7 linked regions of the Homo sapiens genome follow. The protein of the gene in region 5 purifies or fractionates together with the protein of the main gene of each other region. This does not show direct contact. Each region holds a gene or a part of one and is shown on either strand. Other genes may lie near its edges.

The links.
Region 1: the proteins of MACO1 (region 5) and FSD2 purify together in Homo sapiens (co-immunoprecipitation; one large-scale study listed by IntAct). This does not show direct contact.
Region 2: the proteins of MACO1 (region 5) and GRAMD1B purify together in Homo sapiens (co-immunoprecipitation; one large-scale study listed by IntAct). This does not show direct contact.
Region 3: the proteins of MACO1 (region 5) and LRRC32 purify together in Homo sapiens (co-immunoprecipitation; one large-scale study listed by IntAct). This does not show direct contact.
Region 4: the proteins of MACO1 (region 5) and ADGRG5 purify together in Homo sapiens (co-immunoprecipitation; one large-scale study listed by IntAct). This does not show direct contact.
Region 6: the proteins of MACO1 (region 5) and VSIG4 purify together in Homo sapiens (co-immunoprecipitation; one large-scale study listed by IntAct). This does not show direct contact.
Region 7: the proteins of MACO1 (region 5) and RIC3 purify together in Homo sapiens (co-immunoprecipitation; one large-scale study listed by IntAct). This does not show direct contact.

Annotation. Positions count from the first base shown.
Region 1 is NC_000015.10:82,761,070-82,764,569, forward strand, and holds part of FSD2 (fibronectin type III and SPRY domain-containing protein 2), read right to left. Parts: intron 1,210-3,500; coding exon 1,033-1,209; intron 1-1,032.
Region 2 is NC_000011.10:123,611,769-123,615,268, reverse strand, and holds part of GRAMD1B (protein Aster-B), read right to left. Parts: intron 2,509-3,500; coding exon 2,405-2,508; intron 1,815-2,404; coding exon 1,611-1,814; intron 525-1,610; coding exon 434-524; intron 1-433. UniProt on the Homo sapiens protein: Cholesterol transporter that mediates non-vesicular transport of cholesterol from the plasma membrane (PM) to the endoplasmic reticulum (ER).
Region 3 is NC_000011.10:76,664,248-76,667,747, forward strand, and holds part of LRRC32 (transforming growth factor beta activator LRRC32 isoform a precursor), read right to left. Parts: intron 1,712-3,500; 5' UTR 1,708-1,711; coding exon 1,624-1,707; exon of another isoform or gene 1,619-1,623; coding exon of another isoform or gene 1,601-1,618; intron 1-1,600.
Region 4 is NC_000016.10:57,566,643-57,570,142, reverse strand, and holds part of ADGRG5 (adhesion G-protein coupled receptor G5 isoform 1 precursor), read right to left. Parts: coding exon 3,392-3,500; exon of another isoform or gene 2,674-3,391; coding exon 2,552-2,673; exon of another isoform or gene 2,294-2,551; intron 2,288-2,293; coding exon 2,019-2,287; intron 1-2,018. UniProt on the Homo sapiens protein: Orphan adhesion G-protein coupled receptor (aGPCR). Ligand binding causes a conformation change that triggers signaling via guanine nucleotide-binding proteins (G proteins) and modulates the activity of downstream effectors, such as adenylate cyclase.
Region 5 is NC_000001.11:25,437,397-25,440,896, forward strand, and holds part of MACO1 (macoilin), read left to right. Parts: intron 1-3,500. UniProt on the Homo sapiens protein: Plays a role in the regulation of neuronal activity.
Region 6 is NC_000023.11:66,026,581-66,030,080, forward strand, and holds part of VSIG4 (V-set and immunoglobulin domain-containing protein 4 isoform 1 precursor), read right to left. Parts: intron 1,533-3,500; coding exon 1,470-1,532; intron 947-1,469; coding exon 869-946; intron 1-868. UniProt on the Homo sapiens protein: Phagocytic receptor, strong negative regulator of T-cell proliferation and IL2 production. Potent inhibitor of the alternative complement pathway convertases.
Region 7 is NC_000011.10:8,110,026-8,113,525, forward strand, and holds part of RIC3 (protein RIC-3 isoform a precursor), read right to left. Parts: intron 1,113-3,500; coding exon 673-1,112; 3' UTR 1-672. UniProt on the Homo sapiens protein: Molecular chaperone which facilitates proper subunit assembly and surface trafficking of alpha-7 (CHRNA7) and alpha-8 (CHRNA8) nicotinic acetylcholine receptors.

The sequences.
Region 1 (3,500 bases), on a different chromosome or scaffold from region 5:
TTAGAGTCTTCATCTGTTATCGGAGGGGAAGTTGGTTTTCCCACTTATGCTTGGGCATGACACATAATGTGTAAATAACCATGATAGAGGATCATGGGCAGAGAGCATTGGATGAACATTAATAGGATTCATCAAATCAAGGAGGGTCAGAGGCCCCATTTTACAAGGTGTGATAGGAAAGCAGTGTGGGGTCTTGTTTTTCAGTTTTTGAGGTGAAGGAAGGTTGTAACCATGGCCTTCTAAGTCTGAAAGTGTATTCATTGGCCTGGGCTTCGTGAGACTTTTTTTCCCACTATATGGAACTACTCCATGTGTAAAGACAGAGTGCCCAGCAGCAGGAGCAAACCAGAATTAGCCATAACTACTAAGCCTCTTGCCCACATTTACTTAAAAAGATGGAACTGGGGCTTCAAAGCAAACTGTATTGGCTTAATACTAAAGGTGAACAGAAATGAAAAATCTATCACTTAAGTGGTTAGGAATGAAATCTTTGGAACCAGACTGCTTGAGTTTGAATCCAAGTTCCAAATCCATGTCGTTTGGATTATCTAATTGCTGTGAGGTGTGGTCTTCTTATTTTTATTCTTTTATTTTATTTTATTTTTTTATTTTATTATTTTTTTTTTTTTAGAGACGGGGTCTTGCTATGTTGCCCAAGCTGGCTTTGAAGTCCAGGGCTCAAACAATACTCCTACCTCACTCTCCTGAGTAGCTGGGACTACAGGTGCACACCACTGCACCCAGCATTCTGATTTTTCAAATGAGATAACACAATTGTGAGAAGTAAATGAGATAATGCATGTAAGAGTACTTGGCACATAATTCTCCATAAATTTTAGCTATTTTTAGTTGAAGAAAAGCTGCTCTTTCTCCTCTTACTTGGACTTTAGGGAAAGTGGCTGGCAGCAACTCCTGAAATATCTTAAAATATTTGTAAAATATAACGTGTGTCTTAATTATTGCTAGTGAAAAGGTCTTGCTGTAATCTTTCAAAAGCAAATTTTAATTGTGAGTATCCAGATTTTACTTTACCTTGATGATGCAAATGTGTGCCTCATGCACCAGGAGAGGCAATTTGCTCCCAGATCCTCCTGTTTACGGACATCTGCAAAGGCCACACCAACTCTGTAGTCCAAATGCTCATCCACCTCCACCTCCCAGTAATGGTGCCCTCGGACTGGAATTAGATTTCCCATGACAGCAACACACCTGGTTTTAGAAAGTGGAAGCATGTGTGATCTGGGGTGCCCCAAGCCTGGCTGTGCAGGTCAGTGATGCCAGTTGCTGGGATCAGTCAGTCGGTGGTCTACGAACGTGGTGGTAGGTGCTTCTGGACACTTAACTTGTAAAGTACCCTTAGCTCTCAAAGCTCAGTGGGCTGATACTGAAGATTTGAGATTATGTTACTGCTTGGTAATGGGAGAGGAGGAGGCACTAAACCAACAGAACAAGTTTTGTTTGCTCTTTAAAATGGTTGGGGCTTTCATAGAAAAAGGTTTGGTTCACTTGTTCATAAAAAAAGAAAAGGGTTGAAAATACACAACACAGCACGGTTAAGGGAACCATAAGCTTGAAGTTCACCACCATTGCTTATGGTACTAAATGAACATGGAAGGCCTTTGAGGTAGCCATCATGTTAGGGATGACTCCTGGTGGAATTCAGAGGCCAGCCCAAGGAGAACAAGATAGCAGATTCCTCACAGATCATTAAAATCTACCTCCACTGTTGCACTGGGAACAATTATACTGACAAAGATTAGAGTTATGTTTTGTTCTACATCAGCAAAGTATCAACAGAGGAAGGTTTTCAGTGAAAATCAAATTATACTGGTATCTCCAAAGTGAATATTCTACCTTCTTCAGGAGACTCCTACATTAACCAAAATATATATAGACCTCAACATCCCTAGAAAGATTTGTTCAGTTTAAAATTTTCTCTCTACTTTCAAAACCCCAAGTTCTTACTGCTCAAGCAAAGCTTTGGGAAGGAGGTTGCATGTTGGTTAACTTCTACCTCGGTTACCTCACCTATAAAATGAGGCCATCTCTGCTTCAAGCTCCAGACTCACATTTCCACTTGTTGTTTCAAATTCAGAATGTCCCAAATGGAAAAAGTCATATTCCCACCCCTCTTATCTACCAAAGTTTGGGGTGTAGTGGGGAGGGGTACATACTTCTCACATCTCCATTTTGGTTAATAGAGTCATTATCTACCCGGTAACCCCCTGGTGGAAAACTAAGATGGGAATAATGTAGTGGCTACAAGCTCACCTTCTAGTTTGATTCCTGCTTCAACCCTTAATAGCATTATACTCTTGGGCAAGTTACTTCTCTGTGTTTTAAGTATTCTCATCCGTCAACTGGGATTGGTAATAGTACAGGGCTGTTAGGATGATTGCATGAGATGAAATACATTTAGCACTTGGTAAGCACTCTATAAATATGGCAATATGATAGTCCCTGACTCATCTTCCTCTCTGTTGCCCTTTAAACAGGTGAGCACCTAGCCTTGTTGGTTTTATGTGCTCAACAGCAGTTGACTCCCCTGGCTCCTCTCACCCATGCTACTGCGTAGTCAAGCCCTCCATAGTCTCCTCTCTGGTCTCTGTTTCCCATCTGCCTTTGCCTTTCCCTCTCCCTCCCCAGCTCACGTTCTACCATGCACTGGAATCTTTCTGAAATGTAATCTGATCTTGTTCCCCTGCTTTAAATCCTCCAATAATTCTCACCACATAGAGGATAAAATCCTAACTTTTTGTGTGTATACTGGACTTTCTCCGACTTTCCTGCCTCATCTTCCACCTCTTCCCGTCATGGATCCTATACCGCAGACATACCAAATTCCTTATATTTCTCCAAACATGATCTTTCCGGCTTCTTTCATATGTACATGTACAAAGCAATTATCTGCCTTGAACTTTGGAACAGACTCACTCCATGGCCAGTTTTCCATCAGGAGTTTTGCTGTAAGGTACCACAGTGCAGGAGAGAGAGCACTGGGCTAACTGGTGGGAGACCTGGGTCCTTGTTTCTGTTCTCCCACTAGCCCACAGCATGACCCCTGTGAAGCAGGAGAACAGGGTCTGGGGGCAGGGAACCTAAGGACTTCCTAGAACTAAATTAAACGGAAAAACCCCAACCTTCTAAGTCCAAGTAAATAGCTTTGTATTTCAGCATGGCAGGAAACATCCTCTTCATTTGCATAGGGTGTACACCCAGTAAATGACTTTGTAACTTCACTTTAGCCACTTCATATACATAGGGTGTACACCAAGTAACCAGTGGGAACCTCTAGAGGATATTTAAACCCCAGAAAATTCTGTAACCCGGCCCTTAAGCCGCTTGCTTGGCCCACTCCCACCCTGTGGAGTGTGCTTTCGTTTTCAATAAATCTCTGCTCTTGTTGCTTCATTCTTTACTTGCTTTTTTTTTTTTTTTTTTTTGAGAAGGAGTCTCACTCTGTTGCCCAGGCTAGAGTGTAGTGGCGCCATCTCCGCCCC
Region 2 (3,500 bases), on a different chromosome or scaffold from region 5:
AACGTGTGGGCTCCATGAGTGCACAGTTCCAGTGCCTGGCACAGAGCAGACACCCAGAACATCTAATGAAGGAATGAACTCCTAAAATGCCCTCTAGCATTTCTCTGTTAGCATTTAACCATCTGTGCAGGAATTTCAAATGTTCTGTCTCTCTCACCCACTTGAAACTGAAACCCTGAAGGGTATGGATGCTGCATGAAGCATTTTCTTCTGAAGGCCTAGCATACAGTAAATGCTGAACAAAGCAGAGAAAAAGAAGCGAAGAGGTAAGCAACAGGCAGAGCAACCAATCCAGACAGAGAAGACTAGAGGATAAGGCAAAAACCAGGGCAAACAGTAAGGGTGCTCAGATGCTTCAAGAGACGAGGGCTGGGGCACCAGGCTGGAAAGGGAAGGTGGTGAGGGCAGGATAGGAAAACCTAGAATCCCTTACACACAGCTGATAACCAGCAGCAGCTTGGACACGCTCTGCAGGTGGAAACCGTTGGGGGTGTCCTCCGGGATATGCCGCGTCTGTGTGGAACCTGTGGGGAGAATTAAAGAGACCATCACCATGGTGACCCACAAGTCCAACAACTGCTGGTGGGGACACTGGTCAAACAGCAAACATCAGAGACTGATGGAAAAATGTCCATGACACTGTGACAGCAACGATATGCGGAGACTGCCAGCTCTCCAAGAGGAGAAGGTAAAATCCTCAAGGGCAAGGTCATGGGTTGGGTCAGGTCATCATTGAACAAATGAGAAAATCAACAGGCCCATGTAGCTAGGATACACAGGCCCAGGACAAAGGGATCTTCAGCTATGGGAGAGGATGTGGCATTGGGCTAGGACTAAAGACGGCTGGCTTCTGGGTCTGGATCTATTCCTAGTAAGCTACATGATGGAGGACAAGTCATGTAAGCTCTCTGAGAGTCAGTTTACTCAAATGCAATGTCAGTCAGAAATCTTAAATGCAAAACACGTAACATGGAAGTGCTAGGGGTAAAGCTAGGCGGCATGCAGAAGGCTGGCACTCTTCCCCCACTCTCCCCTCTTCTTCTGCCTCCCCTGTCCATATCCAACTCAATTAGTTGGTCTCTAAGGCCCCTTAGAGTCCCAGGTTTCCAGGATTCAGCAAAGACAAGGATGTGAATGGCTGGGTGGGAAGAGGAAGAAATATTAAGGGAGTCCACGGCCTGAGAGGGCAAGCCTGGGTTGGCCCATGCGGGTTGAAGTGAACGGGGACTGTCTTGGTCTCCCTGATCTTTGTGTAATGAGGTAATCTCTGTGGTCTGAGCTGTGGGATCTCCTTAGTGTATTTCCCAAGAACTTGGAAGCTTCATACTTGAGCCTATGCAGGTAGCCATGGAACTAGGGCAACACGAAAGCATAAACACTAAGGCAGCTTTTGTTAATTAGAGCACACATATGGGTTCAGCTGGGGCTGAGGAACTTAAAGAGCAAAGAGAAACAGAGCATTGGGAGCCTCAGATTTAGTGACTTACGTTCAAATTATATACAAATTATAGCCAAGGTGCAAAATGAGTGTGCATGTGTGTGCCTTGGTGTGGGCATGCAGCTCCAGCCCAAAGCTTAGTCCACCCGACCTGTCCCCACCTGGCACACACCTGCCACATGTTTGATCCTGTGGCCCACATCCTCATCTGTGGGCGTGGTGACCGGGCTCATCACCTCTTCCAGGTGAGGGACTCGCAGGTGGGCATGGGGACGCTTCCTCCTCCGCACCGTTGTAGTCTTGCTGGCCTTCTCTTTGGGAGATTGTCTGTGCATCTCAGCCAAATAAGTGCTCTCCGTTTTGGCCAGCTCGCTCTCTATCAGAGACAAAAGGACCACAGGAGAGGCCACCTTCAGCCCTCCAATGCAACTCTCTGCAGAACCATTTTCCTATTCTGTATTCTGGGAAGTTGGTTGGGTGGGTTGAGGATCCTCAGGGATGCCCATGAGCCTCAGGAGGTACTTGTGGGACCCAGCCCCAGTCAAACCCTTCCTCTGGGGTTGTTCAACATTGCAAGGAACCATATGTTCCCAATATCTGCACCCTCATGTATACAATTTGGGGCATACACGTCTTAAATAGATGCATTCACAGGCATTTTACAAATACTTCTCGTCACAGAGCCACCTATATCACTAGGTCTGTGGTTCCTTTTGGGGTGAGGGGTGTTTTATAGATCCCTCAATGATCTCTTAAACATCCTAGACACAGTCTAGAAAAATGCACTTGTCCACATACATGCCAAATTTGGTGTCCACTTCTGAAGCAGGTGTGGGTACCTCATGAAACTACTTCACCTTTCAGTCTCTGCCTCTATTCTCAATACCATTCCCCTGAATGGTGGGCGGCCGCAGTGCAGTTTACCATCTCTGCAGCCCAGCTAGCAGCAAGGATTGCAGTGCTCACCTAAATGGCGGAAGTAGTCCTCCAGCCCACTCCAGAAGTTCTTCTCGATGAACGTTTTCACTAACCCCCAGGGCTGTTTTCGATAGCGCAGCTCTGTGGAGACCCTGAGGAGCAAGCCAGACACAAGATCAGTCATTTCCTGGGTGGGCCTGCCTCTGCTGGGAAAAGGGAAATTCGGAGTTAAGGCCAGATCCGCTTCACATTTGTACTAAACTTTACAAGTTAAAAGGTCCTTCCACATCCATCTCACCCTCTGAAGTCAGTGGAGCTGGTGGATTTATCCCCATTTTATAGATAAGAAAACTGAGCCGTAGGATATTTAAGCAGAGCAAAGGCTAACAACTAGGGTTCTGACTCCAGAGTTCTCTTATGATGGCACACTGCCTCCTCTCAGGGGTCTCACATAGGGCCCAGCAGCCTGCCTGCCAGGCAAGGGGAAGCTCTGCCTGAGGTTCAAGTCTTTTGAGAAACTGACACTGAAAGAAAGTAAGACGGCTCATCCTTTCATCAGGGTCATTCTCTCCTTCTCCAGAGACTTTTAAGTCTAAGTCAAGTTCTGGGTTTTTATCACTTTAACCTTTAAAAGTATGTCATCCTGGGCAACAGAGTGAGACCCCCATCTCTACAAAAACAAAAATAATTAGCCAGGGTCATGTCTGTAGTCCCAGCTAATGGGAGGTTGAGGTGGAGGTTGAGGCTGCAGTGAGCCATGATCACACCACTGCACTCCAGCCTGGGGAAGAGAGTGAGATCCTGTCTCAGAAAAAAAAAAAGAATATCATCTGCTGCCAGCCCTGGCTCCTGCCTCTCCACTGCACCCCAGACCTCACCAGCTCTTGCTCTTTTCCAAGCATTCTTGCTCCCAGTCACTGGTCACACTTCTGTCCATACCCCCTGCAGTATCAGCTCTTTTCTCTCCTATGCAGCAGCCCTGCTCTTTGCCTCCCCCTTAGGTTCATCTGCATCTGTCAATAGATTCTCCCAGCTAATCCATCCCGCCCCATCCCGCCCTGTGACTAAGGCTGCCAGCCCAGCCTCATCCCCCTCCTCAGGGATGCCACCTCCACCCATGTCCAGATGGGAGAATGCCTGTACT
Region 3 (3,500 bases), on a different chromosome or scaffold from region 5:
GGGGGCCTGATGGTGGGCAGGGCTGCACTGGGATGCCCAGATCTCCAGTCCAGTCCAGGAAGAAGCTTGAAGTCCAGGGCGGTGCTCAGAGCTCCACTTCCAGGGTCTTCATGCCTCCTTCAGCTCTGAGCTCCCAGCATTGCCTGACTTACCGTCGGAGGGAATTGGAGGAATTGGCCCTTGACCAGAGTTTAGAGCTCCCACCCACTGTCCTGGGCTATCAGGACACCCACTGCCCAGCTTCCTTTTCAGAAGCAAAGACTTGCCATCCAACTCCATTTCACCACCTGATCATGGGAGGAAAGCAGAGTAGGGAGAGGCACCAGGCAGTGAACAGTGGCAAAGGCAGCTGGGTTCGAATCCTGTAGGTCCCTGGTGGGTCACACATCTTCTCCTTACTTCCCGTGTGTATTATTCCCATGCTGGTTCAGAAAGTGCTTTCCTATCTCTTATCTCATTTCCCCAGACTCCAAAATTCACCCGCTTCCCCTCTGCCTGTTGGGTAGTCAAGGACTTTCCCCTCTGAGCCTCGTCTCCCTGAGGTAGAATGTGCGTTTGTATTTGGTGACATCTGAGGCCTTCTCTGCCCGCAATTCTGGGCTCCGGGAATCTTAGAAGGGCTCTGAAGAGCAAGAAAGGTGGTGGCAACAGGAGACATTGCACCCCCAGGGAAGGGCTGCGGGCAGGCAGCTGCCTGCACTTCCTGCCTCCTGAAGCAGCTGCCGGTTCTGTGTCATAAGCTTCTTCGAGTCTCAGGTCCAAGAGGGGCTTCCGGAGGCCCTGCCCTTTCCCCAGCCAGGCTCTGGCCTCAGTGACTGCCCGGCCTTACAAGTGGATCTAGGTGTTCTCTTTGCCCTGTATCTCATAGAGTCACAAGAACTTTAGGGCTAGTTTCCCTGGCTTGGGACAGGAAAAAGGAATAGAAGCAAATCAAACTTGGTCCTTGCCCTAGGGAAGTTCATGGTCTGGCAGGTGAGACAGGCTTGGACCCTTTCACCAACCACCCCACATGTTCAGTCTTCTCAGTATTGAGATAGGGGGAAGCCTGGGGACCGCAGGAACCCAGAGGAAGGTGTGATCAGACTAGGCCAGCCTGGGAGGGGCTGGGGAGGCTTCCTGGAGATGGCAGCATTTGATCTGGGCACTAAGAAGTGAGAGGCACTCCAGCGGGCAGTCCCAAGTCAAGGAGCCCAGCTTGGAAGGGGATTTGTCTCCAAGAGGGATGAGCACAGAGGAGCCCCTCCCAGCTGGCCTACCCCAAATTCCCCACACATATATATATATTCTAGATCCCCTAGCTGGGCCTACTGCTCTGTGGGGACAGCTTGGGGGAATACAGTGTAATATCAGCCTCACTGTTCCCAGCTGAATGACCTTGGACAAGGCCCAATCTCTCCAAGCCTCAGTCTCCTCCTTTGCAAAATGAGAATAATGGTGCTTACCTGGCAGGACTGTGGGTAAATAAGGTGTTTAAACATTCTAGTAGGTGCTCATTAAATGCAAGGTACATTCCCTTTCCTCTCCTGACTCTTCTAACTTCTGGCTTCTGGGGCTGGGGCACTAGCACACCCTAGGGCAGGGAGGTGGGGGTGGTCCTCACCCTGTCTGGGCAGAGCATCTTACCATCTTACAGGGCACTTTGTCTTGGTGTTGTGCAGCCAGGCCTAGGGTCAGCAGGGCCAGGAGCAGCAGGATCTGGGGTCTCATGGCTCTGTGTAAGGCGGAGAGGAAAGGGGAACACTGTAAGCCCACTGGCTCCTTCCCACTGCCAGCCCCCACTCCCACCCATTCTGTGCCTGCCCTCAGGGAACCCCAGAGCACGGCTGGAGCTGGAATAAAGATGCTTTGAGCAGGGCAGAGAGCCAGGTGGGAAATGGGCCTGCAGCCCATCATAGTAGGCCTCTCACCCAGGCCAAGGAGCCGCCCATTACCCAGGGGAAGCAAGAGTTTTAAGCGGCAGGTGACTTGGTCAGACGGGGGTTTTCAAGAGACCCCACCTGGCGGAAGACAGCCTGGAGGGGATGCACAGAAGGCTGACAGACCCTAAGGGTTACCCTAGGCCATGCTCAGGGCCAGGGACTGGGGGCATGGAGATGTAGAGGGGGTTTGGAGGGTGGGCCTCTGACTACATTTCCACCCAGGCCACACAAGTCCTCCGTACCAGCTCTTCAGTCCCCACATGCAATTCCTCGTTTTCTGCCCACTCCCCCACCTTTATTTTGCCCTTTTCCTTTTGATTCTCTGATTCTCGAGCCCTTGCCATTGTTCAAGGGCTGGGCCCGGGCCTTGGCAGGAAGTCCCACAGGAGGCCTGGCTGCCCCGGCACTGCTCTGCGGACTTCCCCAGGAGCAGCCTGGCAGGCCCTGTACTTTCACTGAAGCCACACTCCGGCCTCCTGGGCCAGCCCTTCCCTCTAAGAGCAGCCAGGGGTGGGGCTAAGGGGACCGCACAGGCCCTTAGCAGGGTTAAATCCCAGTGCTGCTGGAGGCTCACTCACTCCCTCACTAAGGACATCAGCCAAGTGCTAGGGATGTACAAATCCACCCATGAATTTCATTCATTCATTCACACCTTTACTGAATACCTCCTCATGTCTGGCTCTGTGCTGGGAACTGGGAACTCAAAAAACAAATGAACACGAAAAAGAAGTGACAGTGACGGTGATACAGACAGAGAGTCTTAAAGAGGGACACAGAAAGCCTTCCAAGAGCACCAGGCGCACAGTCACCCACATCTGACTGCTCCCTCTTGTCTCCTCTACCTTTCTGCTGTGTGATCTTACAAGTCGCTTCACCTCTCTGAGCCTCAGTCTCCTCATTTGAGGTTAATGGCAGCCATGCCAAGTTTTTGTTGAGAATCAAACGAGATGCCACCTACAGAGCCTCCATTATGCAGTAGGCCCTCTCCTCAGCACTTTCTAGGCATGAACTCATTCCATCCTCACAAAAATTCAATGACTTGGTTCCATCATCATTTTACAGAAGGGAAAAAGAAGTCTCAGAGAGCTTAGGTACTATGCCCGAGGTCACACGGTGAACAAGCCACCGGCCCAGGTGAGTCTGGCTCCTGGGTCTGTGCCCTTCAAATCCACACTCCCAGGCCTCCCACAGTGGGTGCTCCCTCAGTGAGTGCTGAACCGCGATTCTGAAGGATGCTGCAGGAGAAAAGGCATTCACAGGGCATTTGAGGGCAGTGTCTTTGACTGTTGGAACCCGCTAGTGATGAGCTATGGACGAAGATGGCTGCTCTGAATCCCATCTCTCTTGAAGGCGCACAGACCACAGCCGGACCCGGTAAACCCTATTCCCTGGCTCCCCTCAGGGCCACAGGCGCTGCCCCTGCAGCTGCTCTGCTCTCACCTGCATTACAGGTTGTGCTTTCACAGGAAACTTTGTTCTGCTGTTTAAAAAGCAGAACGCCACCGCCCGTTAGAAAGTTAGCATATTCAGAACTGAGTGAAAACCCCTCCGGCAGGGCCTTCCAGGCCACTGGGGAGCATG
Region 4 (3,500 bases), on a different chromosome or scaffold from region 5:
GGGGAACTGCTGAGGAAATAGAAATAAGCAAGAAAGGGGCAAGGACGGTGATGAAGGTACCAGTGATGGTGCTGCTGGAGATAGAGAAGGTGGAGGAAGTGATGATGGTGGAGATGGAGGTGGAGTAGGTGGTGATGGTGGTGAAGGAGGTAGAGAAAATGAAGGCGGTAATGGAGGTAGAGGAGGTGATGATGGTGCTGATGGAGGTGGAGGAGATGGAGGTGATGATGGTGATAGTGCAGGTGGAGGAGATGATGGTGATGACAGAGGTGGAGAAGATGGAGGAGGTGACGGTGATGATAGACGTGGAGGAGGTAATGATGATGATAGAGGTGGAGGAGATGGAGGAGGTGATGGTGATGATGGAGGTGGAGGAGGTGACGATGGTGATGACAGAGGTGGAGGAGATGGAGGATGTGATGACGATGGTGATAGAGGTGGAGGAGGTGATGATGGTGGTGACAGAGGTGGAGGAGATGGAGGAGGTGATGATGGTGATGATGAAGGTGGAGGAGGTGATGATGGCGATGATAGAGGTGGAGGAGATGGAGGAGGCGATGGTGATGATGGAGGTAGAGGAGGTGATAATGGTGATGATAGAGGTGGAGGAGATGGAGGAAGTGATGGTGATGATGGAGGTGGAGGAGGTGATGATGGTGGTGATAGAGGTGGAGGAGATGGAGCAGGTGATGATAGTGATGACGGAAGTGGAGGAGGTGATCATGGAGGTGATAGAGGTGGAGGAGGTGGTGATGGAGTTGATGGAGGTGGAGGAGGTGGTGATGGAGGTGATGGAGGTGGAGGTGGTGGTGATGGAGATGATGGAGGTGGAGGTGATGATGATGGAGGTGGAGGAGGTGATGATGGAGGTGATGGAGGTGGAGGAGGTGGTGGTGGAGGTGAAGGAGATGATGGTGGTGGTGAAGGAAGTGGAGGAGGTGGTGGAGGTGGAGGAGGTGATGACGATGGTGATGAAGGTGGAGGAGGTGGTGATGGAGGTGGAGGAGGTGATCATGGTGGTGAAGAAGGTGGTGATGTACGTGGAGGAGGTGATGATGGTGGTGATGAAGGTGGAGGAGGTGATGGCGATAACGGAGGTGGAGGAGATGGTGATGGTGGTGATGGAGGTGGAGGAGGTGATGGTGATGATGAAGGTGGAGGAGGTGATGATGGTGGTGATAGAGGTGGAGGAGATGGAGCAGGTGATGATGGTGATGACGGAGGTGGAGGAGGTGATCACGGAGGTGATAGAGGTGGAGGAGGTGGTGATGGAGGTGATGATGGTGGAGGAGGTGGTGATGGAGGTGATGGAGGTGGAGGAGGTGGTGATGGAGGTGATGGAGGTGGAGGAGGTAGTGATGGAGGTGACAGAGGTGGAGGTGGTGGTGATGGAGGTGATGGAGGTGGAAGAGGTGATGATGGAGGTTGAGGAGGTGATGATGGAGGTGATGGAGGTGGAGGAGGTGGTGGTGGAGGTGAAGGAGATGATGGTGGTGGTGAAGGAGGTGGAAGAGGTGGTGGAGGTGGAGGAGGTGATGATGATGGTGATGATGGTGGAGGAGGTGGTGATGGAGGTGGAGGAGGTGATCATGGTGGTGAAGAAGGTGGTGATGTACGTGGAGGAGGTGACGATGGTGGTGATGAAGGTGGAGGAGGTGATGGCGATAACAGAGGTGGATGAGATGATGATGGTGGTGATGGAGGTGGAGGAGGTGATGGTGATAATGAAGGTGGAGGAGGTGATAATGGTGGTGGAGGAGGTGGAGGAGGTGATGGTGATAATGAAGGTGGAGGAGGTGATAATGGTGGTGGAGGAGGTGACGATGATGATGATGGAGGTGGAAGAGGTGATAAAATTAGTAACATAGAAAGTAGAGGTGGGTGTAGACAGAGTTCACAGCTGGTGGTCATGTAATGGCCACTATGACGATGAGGAGGAGGGGAAAGAAAGGACTAAAGGGGATCAATACCCTGCCCACCTGGAAGTCTGAGGAGGCGAGGAGAGATGATGTGCTTACCCCAGCCTAGCACACCAAGCTTGAACACATATCTGCGGATGTAGATGTTGTAGACACGCCCGAGGAGGAGGTAGAGGTTGAAGCCCTCGATGGCCATCCAGGTGAGGCAGCTGAGCAGCGCGTAGTGCAGGGCAGCGGCCAGAGCCGTGCATGCTGACCCGGGCACAGGAGACATTGCGAATGCGGGGCTCAGCAGGAAGGCGATGTTCAGGAGCAGCACGGAGGCATGCAGGTTCATGTGGATGCGTGTTAAGGAGTCACTCTGCTTCCTGCAGGTGAGAGAATGGTCCTCCATGGCCCAGGGACATCACCCAGGCAGCACTACCCACTGGGTGCATAGGTGCATGCCGACAGGGAAACTGAGGCGAAGAAGGGGCAGGGATCCCACAGCAGTCGCACCACAAGGCTGGTCTCCCGCCTCCTGGTCCCCACCCTCTGGAGAAGCACACCCAGTTCTAGTGGACTAAATGGGACACAAGGAAGCGTGATGTGCCACAGTGCAGGGCAGGCCCAGCACTGTGGCAGCGGAATACCTGAAATGGAAGTGCAGCAGGACTGTGATCAGCGAGGCCACGATGGAGATGCTGCAGCCCACGAGGGAGATGTACGTAAGAGGTGCCAGCAACTCTGCAGGGACCAGGGCTGGGGAGAGTTGCTGCAGGAGGGAAGAGGGGCTGGAGGCCAGAAGCATAGTATCGCCCTTCCTCCCAGCCTCAGTCAGAGGGACCTCCTGAGGCCTCCTCTCCAAGTCCCCTTCCCCACAAGCCTAGCCATGGACCTGGCTTGAACAAGGCCATGGCAGATACAGTCAGTTTTGCCCCCTCCACATCTCCCATCTCCCTCTTCTTCTATGAGTGCCTCCCTTCTCCCACTCCCTATGCACCTGTGGGGTTCCACCACTTTGCCCTCTTTGTGCAGAAAGGGGTGCCAGGCCTGGTCAAGCAGGGCCCTCCCTCCTTCTGCCTATAGCGATTGGGTCAGGGATGAGCACATGGCTGGCAGAACTGGGTAAAAGAAGATTTTATTCCACTGGCCTGAAAGCTAGCAGGGCATGAGCCTGGAACTGCTGCCAGCTATATTATTATCTCATAAGGAGATCCTATTTGAGGGCTAAGCCAGCACAGAGCAAGCACAGTTGAGGGACAAAGATAGAGTGCTATCTTAGTGATCTTAGTGATCAGCCCGTGGATCAAGCCATGCCTGAAGCCTAACCCAGCCTTTCCAGAAACATGAGTCCATAAAGTTTTTTTTGTTTTTTGCTTAAGCCCATTTCAGTTGGACTTTCTGTCCCTTGCACCAGCTTTTGCCTTGCTCCTCTGCCACAGACACAGGGCCCTCTGTAGCTCTGAGCCCCACTCAGGATGCATACATACCATGAGAACAGCAAAGTAGGTGAGGTGGTTGCAGCGGCAGAGCACCTGAGAGTGGGAGGGCTGCTCTGTACGACAGCCCTCAGGGCTCCAGCCCCCCCAGGGCTGTTTC
Region 5 (3,500 bases):
GCCACTCACCTTGACCTCTCAAAGTACTGGGATTATAGGCATGAGCCACCGCACCCACCCAACACTTTTAAAAACCAAATAAATAGCTGAGTACTAAAATCAGTACTTTGCCTATCTTGTAGCAAGAATAGTTGAACATTAAAGAGAATGAATACTATGTTCATGTCCAAAGTAAGGATTCCTGTCTCAGAAAAGAGAGATACTGTCTGAGGCTTGAGTCGTCTTGCTCAGATGTAATAAGAATTTTTGGCCGGGTGTGATGGCTGTAACCCCAGCACTTTGGGAGGCTAAGGCAAGAGGATTGCTTGAGTCCAGGAGTTCAAGACTAGCCTAGGTAACATAGCGAGACCTCATCTCTACTAAAATTCAAAAAAATTAGCTGGGTGTGGTGTCACATTCCTGTAGTCCCAGCTACTTGGGAGGCTGAGGCGGGAGGATCACGTGAGCCCAGGAGTTTGAGGCTGCAGTGTGCCATGATCGTGTCACTACACTCCAGCCTGGGCAATAGAGCAAGACCCTGTGTCAAAAAAAGAGAATTGGCTGGGCGTGGTGGTTAATATAATCCCAAAGTGCTGATATTATAGGCGTGAGCCACCATAATCAGCCCCCAATTTAAAGGAAAAAAAAAATCTAGAATGGAAATCGCTAAAAAAGGTTTTCACGGTTTTGTAGTATAACATTTTTATAAAGGTCTGTATAGACCACAGAGATATCAAGGACAGGTATTGTAACCTAATGCAGGTGGTGAGTTTTAGAATTTCTGTTTCAAGAATACTTTTAACAGTGTGGAGTCTATGGGGTTGAGGAAGGGGAGGGGTGAAGAAGCATAGGCGGAGAGAGAAAACAACTCACAGGCTCTAAAAAAACCTGTTAACATTATATAAACATTAGAAATTCATTTCATAAGGGAATCAAAATTATGCTTCATATAATTGATAGTAATAATCTGCTTAATCACACCTTACATTTCTGTCTTACTTGTAACTTTTCCAAATGTTTTCATATTATCTCATTTTATCCTCACAAGTGTGAAATAGGCAGAGTAGGTATTGCCATTTTATAGGAAACAAACCTGAGGAATAGAGAACTAAAAAGCTGCAAGGCACTATTGAAAGAGTACAGAAACAGAAGTTAGGAGACTGCAGAGAACAGTGTAAATTCTATGTGGAACTCTATGTTGCTGCTAAAATGGATAAGGGAAATTCTATATAAAGAAGTGGACATGACTGGGCCCCGTGGCTCACGCCTGTAATCCCAGCACTTTGGGAGGTCGAGGCGGGTGGATCACCTGAGGTCAGGAGTTCAAGACCAGCCTGGCCAACGTGGCGAAACCCCGTCTCTACTAAAAATATAAAAATTAGCTGGGCGTGGTAGCATGCGCCTGTAATCCCAGCTACTTGGGAGACTTGGGAGAACTGCTTGAACCCAGGAGGCAGAGGTTGCAGTGAGTCGAGATTGTGCCACTGCACTCCAGCCTAGGCAACAGAGTGAGACTGTCTCAAGAAAAATAAAATAAAATAAAAAACTAAAAAAAAAAGAAGTGGACATGTCAAACAGAAACCTGTTTTTGTTAAGAAAGAAACACATTTGTTTATATAGAAAAAGCAAATTATATTTATGAATTATATAACAGCAATCATCTTGGGGCAGGACTACTAAGGGCTTTTATATTATACATTATATTACCTTTTTAATAACAAGTATGTGTTGCTTCTTTTTAACTTCTCATTTTGAAATAATTTTAGATTTAATTAAACAGAAAAGTCACAAAAATAGTACAAAGTACTTACACCTTAGTGAAAGGCATAAGATACCCTATTTATTTATTTATTTATTTTTAAAGAAAAAAAATAGCCAGGCATGGTGGCTCTTGCCTGTCACCCTTGCTACTTGGGAGGCTGAGGTGGGAGGATCGCTTGAGCTCAGGAGTTGGAGGTTGCAGTGAGTTATGATCACACCACTGCGCTACAGCCTAGGAGACAGAGTAAGACTCTGTCTCTGAAAAAAATAAACAAACAAAAAAGGGCATATTTCACACTGTTAGATTTGTCATTGCAGTGGCTGCACATGTACGCGCGCGTGTGTGTGTGTGTAATTGACACTAGAAAGGTTCCCTTTGCAGTATGCAGGAGGCCTAGAATAGAAAAAAGAAATATAGAACAGCTTGGTCTTCTCAGCCTGCTCCCCTTTTTTGGATTTTATACAAGGAGGTGCCTGCAGAATGCAGCAGTGGTTCCAGTTTATTTTATGTTAAGGCTCACACACAAATTTCTGTTTTTTTTTTTTTTGTCAAAAAATTTTTTTGTCTCTGGATCTCTTTACACTCTTAAAAATGATTGAGGCTGGACACTGTGGCTCACACCTGTAATCCCAGCACTTTGGGAGGCTGAGACAGGTGGATCACTTGAGGTCAGGAGTTTGAGACCAGCCTGACCAACTTGGAGAAACCCCGTCTCTACTAAAAATGAAAAATTAGCTGGGCATGGTGGCGCATGCCTGTAATCCCAGCTACTTGGGAGGCTGAGGCAGGAGAATCACTTGAACCCAGGAGGCAGAGATTGCGGTGAGCCGAGATCGTACCATTGCATTCTAGCCTGGGCAACAAGCGAAACTCTGTCTCAAAAAAAAAAAAAAAGATTGAGAATATCACAGAGATTTGGTTTATATGGATTATATCTATCAATATTTACTGTATTAGAAATTAAAACTGGCTGGATGTGGTGGCTCATGCCTGTAGTCCCAACACTTTGGGAGGTCAAGGTAGGAGGATCACTTGAGCCCAGGATCTTGCTATGTTGACCAATCTGGGCAACATAGCAACATCCCATCTCTACAAAAAAAAAAAAAAAAAAATTAGCCAAGCATGGTGGTATGTGCCCGTAGTCCTAATTACTCTGGAGGCTGAGATAGGAGGATCACTTGAGCCCAGGTTGAGGTTGAGGCTGCAGTGAACTATGATTGTACCACTGCACTTCAGCCTGGGCAACAAAGGAAGACCCCAGTTCTGGGAAAAAAAAAAAAAAAAGAAGAAAGAAAAAAGTTAAAATAGAAAAATTTAAAACATTAGTTCACTTAAAAGTACCAATAAATTGCTGAGCACAGTGGCTCACGCCTGTAATCCCAGCACTTTGTGAGGCCAAGGCAGGCGGATCACCTGAGGTCAGGAGTTCGAGACCAGCCTGGTCAACATGGTGAAACCCCATCTCTACTAAAAATACAAAAATTAGCCAGGCATGGTGGTAGGCACCTGTAATCCCAGCTACTTGAGAGGCTGAGGTGGGAGAATCACTTGAACTGGGAGGTAGAGGTTGCAGTGAGCCAAGATTGCGCCATTGCACTCCAGCCTGGGCGACAGAGTGAGACTCCATCTCAAAAAAAAAAAAAAAAAAGAAAAGTAACAATAAATTAATAAATTCATGAGAAGACTGGTGTGGTTTTACATTTTTGCATAGCTCTTTAGTGTCTGGCTTACTAGAAGATACTTTGAGAACCACCGCTGT
Region 6 (3,500 bases), on a different chromosome or scaffold from region 5:
GGTTTGAGTGCTGCCAAGGGATAGCCAAAAAACTCTGCAATCAGGAATGGAGAGTTACAAAGAGCATTTGGAAGTCCACTCTCTCAATTATACACAGGCAGAGAATGAGTACCAGGAGTGATAGTTATCAAACTATTTAATTCCAACCAGTCACAACAGATGCCTACTGTAGACTTGGAGTCTTAGAGATTCCTTGGTATACCTTTTGTTGCATGACCATGGGGGTGGTCTAGAGAGTTCTGAGGAATGGGACAAGGCAGCCCCAGGTAATAATGGAGGGCTCAGGGGTTAAGGGGAGCAGCTAATTATCAATTGGTGTGAGAGTGTTCTATTATTTCAACAGTCAATGTAGTCATGTGAAGGCATACCAACTGACTATCAGATGCAGGTGAAACACAAAAGATTTATTTGGGATTTGAATCTCTGAGACCCTGACTTGGGAATTTTCAAGGCTTTGGAGGAATCAGAAATCAGCTTCAAGCGGCTTGAAGAGCCCTGGTTAAGAGCTCAAGCAATGACACTCAGCCATTATCCTTACCTGGTTGAGGTCATGATGTCATAATGTCCCTATCCATATTCTTGCTCAGAATGTTTGGAAAGCATATTACTATGACAACAGAGAACTAAATAAAGGGCACATTTATCACTCCCCTTAACCTCACTCTGACTTTGCTCATCTCTGGATCTGTATCTCTCTCTCTACATCCTACCCACTTTACCCATCCTCAGTGCCCTTGACCATTGCTTGGCACATAGCAGGTAATGATTTGCAGATTTCAATGCTGTAGAACAGTGTGCATAAGGGAAAGTTTTGGTCACAAAGCTTAGAGTCAAGAAGAAAAGATAGAAATCCTGACAATATTCCTACCTGGCCCAGCACTGGTCTCTCCAAGGTAGCCATCCATGTCAGTGGTCCAGTCCCAGGACTGCTTCACTGTAGATGTTGCTATGAATATAGAGAATAGGGTCAGAGATGTCTCTCTTCTTTCAAAAAGTTGAGAGATAGGAGATGGTTGCAAAGGTTGGAGTCCTTCCCTGGCCATTTGTGCTGTACTTTCCAGGGTACCTGACCATGTTATCAACCACTAGTACCATGAGATAAGGCATCTTCATTTCTTACTGTTAGGTGTGGGCAGTGAGAAGAATTCCCATCGAGGGGAGGTAATGTACCCAAAGTCACACAGCAAGTCAAACTAGGAGCAGAATAGAATTTAGTGTTCTTGTTTTTTGTATTTCCAATGGGAGTAATTCTAACCCTCTCTTTCCTTTTGCCTCAGAAGTTTTCACAAAAAAAGAGTATATATTCATCATTGTTACCTTTCTTTTGTTTCCATTCCTTTACTGCTATGTTCTCTCTGAGGAACCAAGTGACTGTTTATTAGCCATTCCATGGCATTGTGATTCCTTTCTTGGCTACGATGACACCATTTTGAACCTCTACTACTTCCTCAGACTCTAGCAAAACTCACCTTTCAAGGGGTATGTCATGGTTGTAGGTGCCTCAGTCTTGGTCTTGAGTAGCTTTGAGGAGTCTGCAAGGAAAAGGGAACCGATTGAAGGGACCTGGTACCCTTTGGTGAATAGTTTAATGCCCTAGGGAAATAGGAAGTAAGTAAAGGCCATTCAGGTCCATACTTGGACCTGCCTCAACACTTCTGTCATGATGCTGGTAAGTCCTGTGTTGCTTGTTCATCTTTCATACATCAATCAAGGACAGAGTTTTTAACCCAGGATTAATAGATCTCGAAGGAACCTGTAGCTAGAGTTCAGAGAGTCAGTCAACTTGGATGGGAAAATATATTTTATTTTTACTAACTTCTAACTGAGACCTAGTAATTAATTCTCTTGAGAGAAACTTGGGAAGTATCATAAAGAAAGTGGCAATGGGTGACATCAGTGAAAATGGTGACATAATAACCTCCAGAAATTTACCCTTTAACAACATCAGTGAAATAATGCAAAATTTGACGTAATCAACTTTTTTTTTTTTTTTTTTTTTTTTTTAGAATTTTGCAAAATAGCCAAAGGTTTGCAGCACCTTAGACAGGATTTATGGAAGAAAAATATCCCAGTTTTGGTAAGAACAGCAAGCTTTGTGCTGTTTTAACTTCTCCTAGTCCCCTTACCCCTTCTACCTCAGAGGTAATCTTGAACATACAACCCCATTCCAGGTGCTGGAGTGAGCCCAACAAACTTCATTTTTGAATAATTGCCATTATTTGGCCTGTCTGGTGGTTCCCTGAAAGACCTGACTCAAAAGACTTGTTTTATTGGTCACCCAGTGCTAAGAGCCTCTCCCCAGGGATGGGGTAGCATTTGTCACACAGCTGCCTGAGGCAATGGATAATAGGCGAGAAAACAAAAAAAACTAACCAAAATAGCCTTAAAAATGGTTGAGGAATAAGATTTCCATAGGGATTTTGAAGAGTTCTGACACAGTTCTGGGAAACTAGGAGGCCACACACAAGCACAGGGCCATGTACCTGCTCAGAAAAGACATGAGAAAACCATAAGCTTCTCCCTCTTGCTAGCAGAGGAAACAGCATGCTCCGTTTTAGATGTGGCGAAACATATTAGTAGATAAGTCTGGATAGGTAGGCTGAAAACAGACTAAAAGGGTTTGGGCTTTGTTCTTTAGTTGGAAAGATCCATGGGGTGTAACAGAAGGTTACACCTTTTGAGAAAGGTTTACTTCCTTTTGAGAAAGGAAGCAAAAATTGTTCAGTCTATTTTTTTTGGAAATAATTCTGACAACAGTGTGGTAGGATTTTCAAAGGTAAGGCAATAGCATATTTTCCCCATTCATTAACAAATACAGTATTCATCTAGTGTCTAGTGTCTTCTTTGTGCCAGATACTTTGCTGGGCTCTGAAAAACAGCAATGAAGTAGACAGGTAGAATTCTGCACTCTTGAATTTTATAATCTAGTGACATAAAATATATACTCAATAAATATTGAATAAGTTGATGACTTCGTAAGAATGTATGAACATGGGGAGAACATTTAGAAGATGATTGAAATTGTTTTTTAAAAAAGAATATGAGACCATGAGGGTATAGGAAGAGAAAGAAAGAGCCTAATAAGGTATCTGATTCAGTAGGTGAATTCACAGCACTTGGTAATATTGATGATTATTTGACGATGCGAGGTAAAAGAGAAGGAGGAGTCAAAGGTACTGCTATGTTTTCTAACAGGTTTGAGGAACAGGTTTGGTGAGTAAAAGGTACGATCAGTTTTGAACACGCTGAAATTAGAAATGAAGCTGTCCAGAAGGTAACTAGACACTGGGATCTAGCAGTCAGGAAAAAATAAATACAGATAATATTATGGTTGGAGAGTCATCAGACTACAGGTGATATTTGAAGCCACAGAAGTAAATAAAATCTCCTGATAATATAGAAATACATGCAGAGATGAATAAGAATTGAGTCTTTGAGAACATTTACAATTAAGGAGTGAATGAAAAAAGAGCCAACAAAGGTGTCTCAGAAGGATCATT
Region 7 (3,500 bases), on a different chromosome or scaffold from region 5:
AGTATCAGAGTAAAACAGTCCCCAAACAAGCCTCTGGGCTCATTCTCAGATCAGTGGGAGTCTTCCCTACTCTGGAGAAAAGAGGATGTCTGAGGCAGCATCAATGTTCCTAGGAAGACCCTCGCTGCGAGGAAGAGGCTTCAGCTTAGACAGCAGAGTCTTACCCTCCTCTGGGCCCATTAGCCCCACAAACAAAATGTTCTCTTCTCACCAGGGGACTACTAACCTGCTCAAGGCCCAAAGAATAAGGGATCTTGGAGTCTGAAATCTTCATTCTTGCAACCTTAAGTCCTCATCATCTGTAAGCTGATGTTCGTTCACAGGTGAACTATCTGTTACACCTACCAGGAAGAGTCAGACCTTTGCCCCTGAGTGGTCCCATCTGTAATTACAATAGACCAAACATAATTACTTAATGGATCAACTTCTCTGATAGAGGAAAGGCAGGAAGAGAAAGAGCGAAGCTGTCCTGTGTTCACACTAATGTCCGTGTTTTACAAGGTGACAGGTGTGTGAGCACCAGGAAGGATACATGATATCCATGATAGTGGCCTGATAGCTATGACACTTGAACACAGTGAAGAAAGTGCAGGGCACAGGGCCAAGAAGGAAATCTGAGGAGAGAGAGGTCACCTTGGGACTTGAGTAATGGATACTTCAGACTGGCTGTTTTCACTCTAAACCCTGGGGGTTACGCTTCCTCAGCATGCTGCCTGTATATGCTTTATCGGTGCTGATGCCCAACCCTTCATCTTTAAAGTCTTGGGACCACTCTTCTTTGGTGGTTTCCTCTTGCTCAGGGTAGCTATCTGCACTGAATCCAGCATTCTCTGCCAAGACAGCAGGATCCTCGTCTTCATGAAAACAGCAGGAACATGTTTCTGGCTTTGGATCACACGAGGTAACAGAATTATCTTCCTGGGCTCTGGGGTCAGTGGGCAGACTTTCCCAACCCAAATGATCTGATTCTTCCTCTTCTATCATTCCCATTCTTTCAGCTATTTCTTCAGCAGAAAGTTCTTTTGGGTCAGGGTAATCCACCAAGATTGTTTCTTGCCTACGCTTGATACAGTCTGAAAGGTCATAAATTGGGTAAGTCTCTTCAGGGTAACCTAGAGAGAAAAGTAGCACAAAGTATTACAAAGAATGTCTCCTCAAAAAAAAAAAAAATAGTGTCAGGTTCAAAGAGGATTCTCAGGCAGCAGCCATCCTATCCTAACAAATCCATTCAAGACATCTCTAAGATTCCAATAGTTCTAAAGTTTTACTTGAGCAAATTCTTAGCAATCTGGCTATCCCAGTGCTCTTTGAAATACAAACTAATTCAGATGAAAATCCCTTCTTATGTGTAGGGTGCTTGGGGCAGAGTTAAGTCTTATACCATGTGTTTTTGCAGTACTGATGAAGATTAAACAAACAACATGAGCCTTTAGTTAAAACAAAAAAAGCATCAAAACCAGACAGAGACAGCACAGCTCCAGGCTAATGTTTATAATTTCTATTTGGAACAATTTCCAAATCTTCCTTGGTGGAGTGGGGAGAGGAAAGGAATGCTAAGCTCTTTGAAAAATACACCATGAAGCTTTCTATTTATCCAAACAATTGAAATGGCTTGCAAGTGTCAAAAATAGAGAGCACTTTAGCAAGGCATGCCCAAGATCCCGAAAGGACAAGCACTGCATTTTCGGAAGACAGAATTCCTGTTGTTGGCTTCTTCATCTTCACAAAATGGAACAAAAGAAAACAACAAACTGGCAAACAAAATGAGTAACACTGGTACTGAATCCCAGCTAGGATAATGAGAAAAGAGAAACTGTTGCCAAATTACCAAACTAAATGAAATAAATCTGTGTCCGCCAAGCAAGCCTGAGCAGCAGATGGGCCGTGCTGGAGCTCACACACCAGTACTGGCACCAGCGGCCGTAATCACGATACAGTGCAGAAAGCTGGAGGATTCAGAACCCATTTGCCCATTATGATAATTGGCAAATTCAACCCTAACGTAAACCATTTTTTGCCTACAACTGTGACAAATAAGTCTTTTTTGGTGCAATGTAGGGTGTGTGTGGAGACATTTCTACATTTACTGCTTTTTCTGACTATAAAAATCATACAGACTCATTTGTAGAAAATTTGAAAAAAATACAGGCTAGTTTAAAAAAGAAAACACAAATCACCCATAATATCTTCACTCATAATAATTTGCTTTTTTCTGGTCTTTTTTTAACCGTATATACACATATATTTTCTTTTCTTTTCTTTTCTTTTCTTTTTTTTTTTTTGAGACGGAGTCTCGCTCTGTCGCCTGCCCAGGCTGGAGTGCAGTGGTGCAATCTCGGTTCACTGCAACCTCTGCCTCCCCGATTCAAGTGATTCTCCTGCCTCAGCCTCCTGAGTAGCTGGGATTACAGGTGCATGCCACCACACCTAGCTAATTTTTTGTATTTTTAGCAGAGACGGGGTTTCACTATGTTGGCCAGGCTGGTCTCAAACTCCTGACCTCAGGTGATCCACCCACCTCGGTCTTCCAAATTGTTGGGATTACAGGCATGAGCCACCGCGCCCGGCCAACATGTATTTTCTTATTCCCCTTTTTTAAAAAGAAGGATCATATTTGTGTATAAAAGGTTATATCCTGATGTTTTTCAATTCAACATTATATCATGAGCATCTCTCCATGTCATTAGGCATTTGAAAGTTGGTTGCAAAATATCTCATCATATAGCTACATAACTGACATGATTTACTAGTCCTCTTTTCTAGGGCATTTAGATTCTTTCCAATTTTCCCCTATTATAAGTAGTATACAAGTTAAGATTTCTTAATATAAATCTATGTCCACTTCCCTAGTTCTTTAAGATAGACTTCTATAAATATGAAAACTAGACCAAAGGGAATGGACATTATAAAAGCCTTTTTTATACTGTGCCAAATTACTTTCCAGAAGAGTGGTATAAATTTTCAATCCTACCAGTGATATAAAGACTGTCCATCTTATGACACCCTCACCAGCACTCACAGTAGTATGTTAAGAATTTTGCCAATGCAGTCTTTATTCCAAGGCTTAACTTACTGCGGATGGAATGCTAGGTAAAGTGGAGCTTAGCTAACCCAAGACCCTCAGCCACCATGGTCAAGGATAGGATCTGGAGAAGCTGCTTGCTAGTCAGCTCCCAGCCACTGAATGCTTAAAAGAAGTCCATTTGCTGGCATGTCCCTGTCTTCCCACACTTAGAACAAAGCTTATCTTTGAATTTTCATGACTATCTGCTTTAAGAGGGAAGGTCACCCAGACTCAGGCTCTCAGCCTACCCCAACACCAGGCCTCAGTCCAGCTCTGCATCCCTAGTCATAATGCCTGCACCCACAGACCCAGCCTCCATGCTGGCCCCTGCAGATACAGACTCCGGGCCCACCCAGCATCAGGCCAGCAACTATGGCCCCAGAATCCAGTCCCACCCTAGGTTCCAGACAAAACCAGAGCCAGGTCTGCCCACATA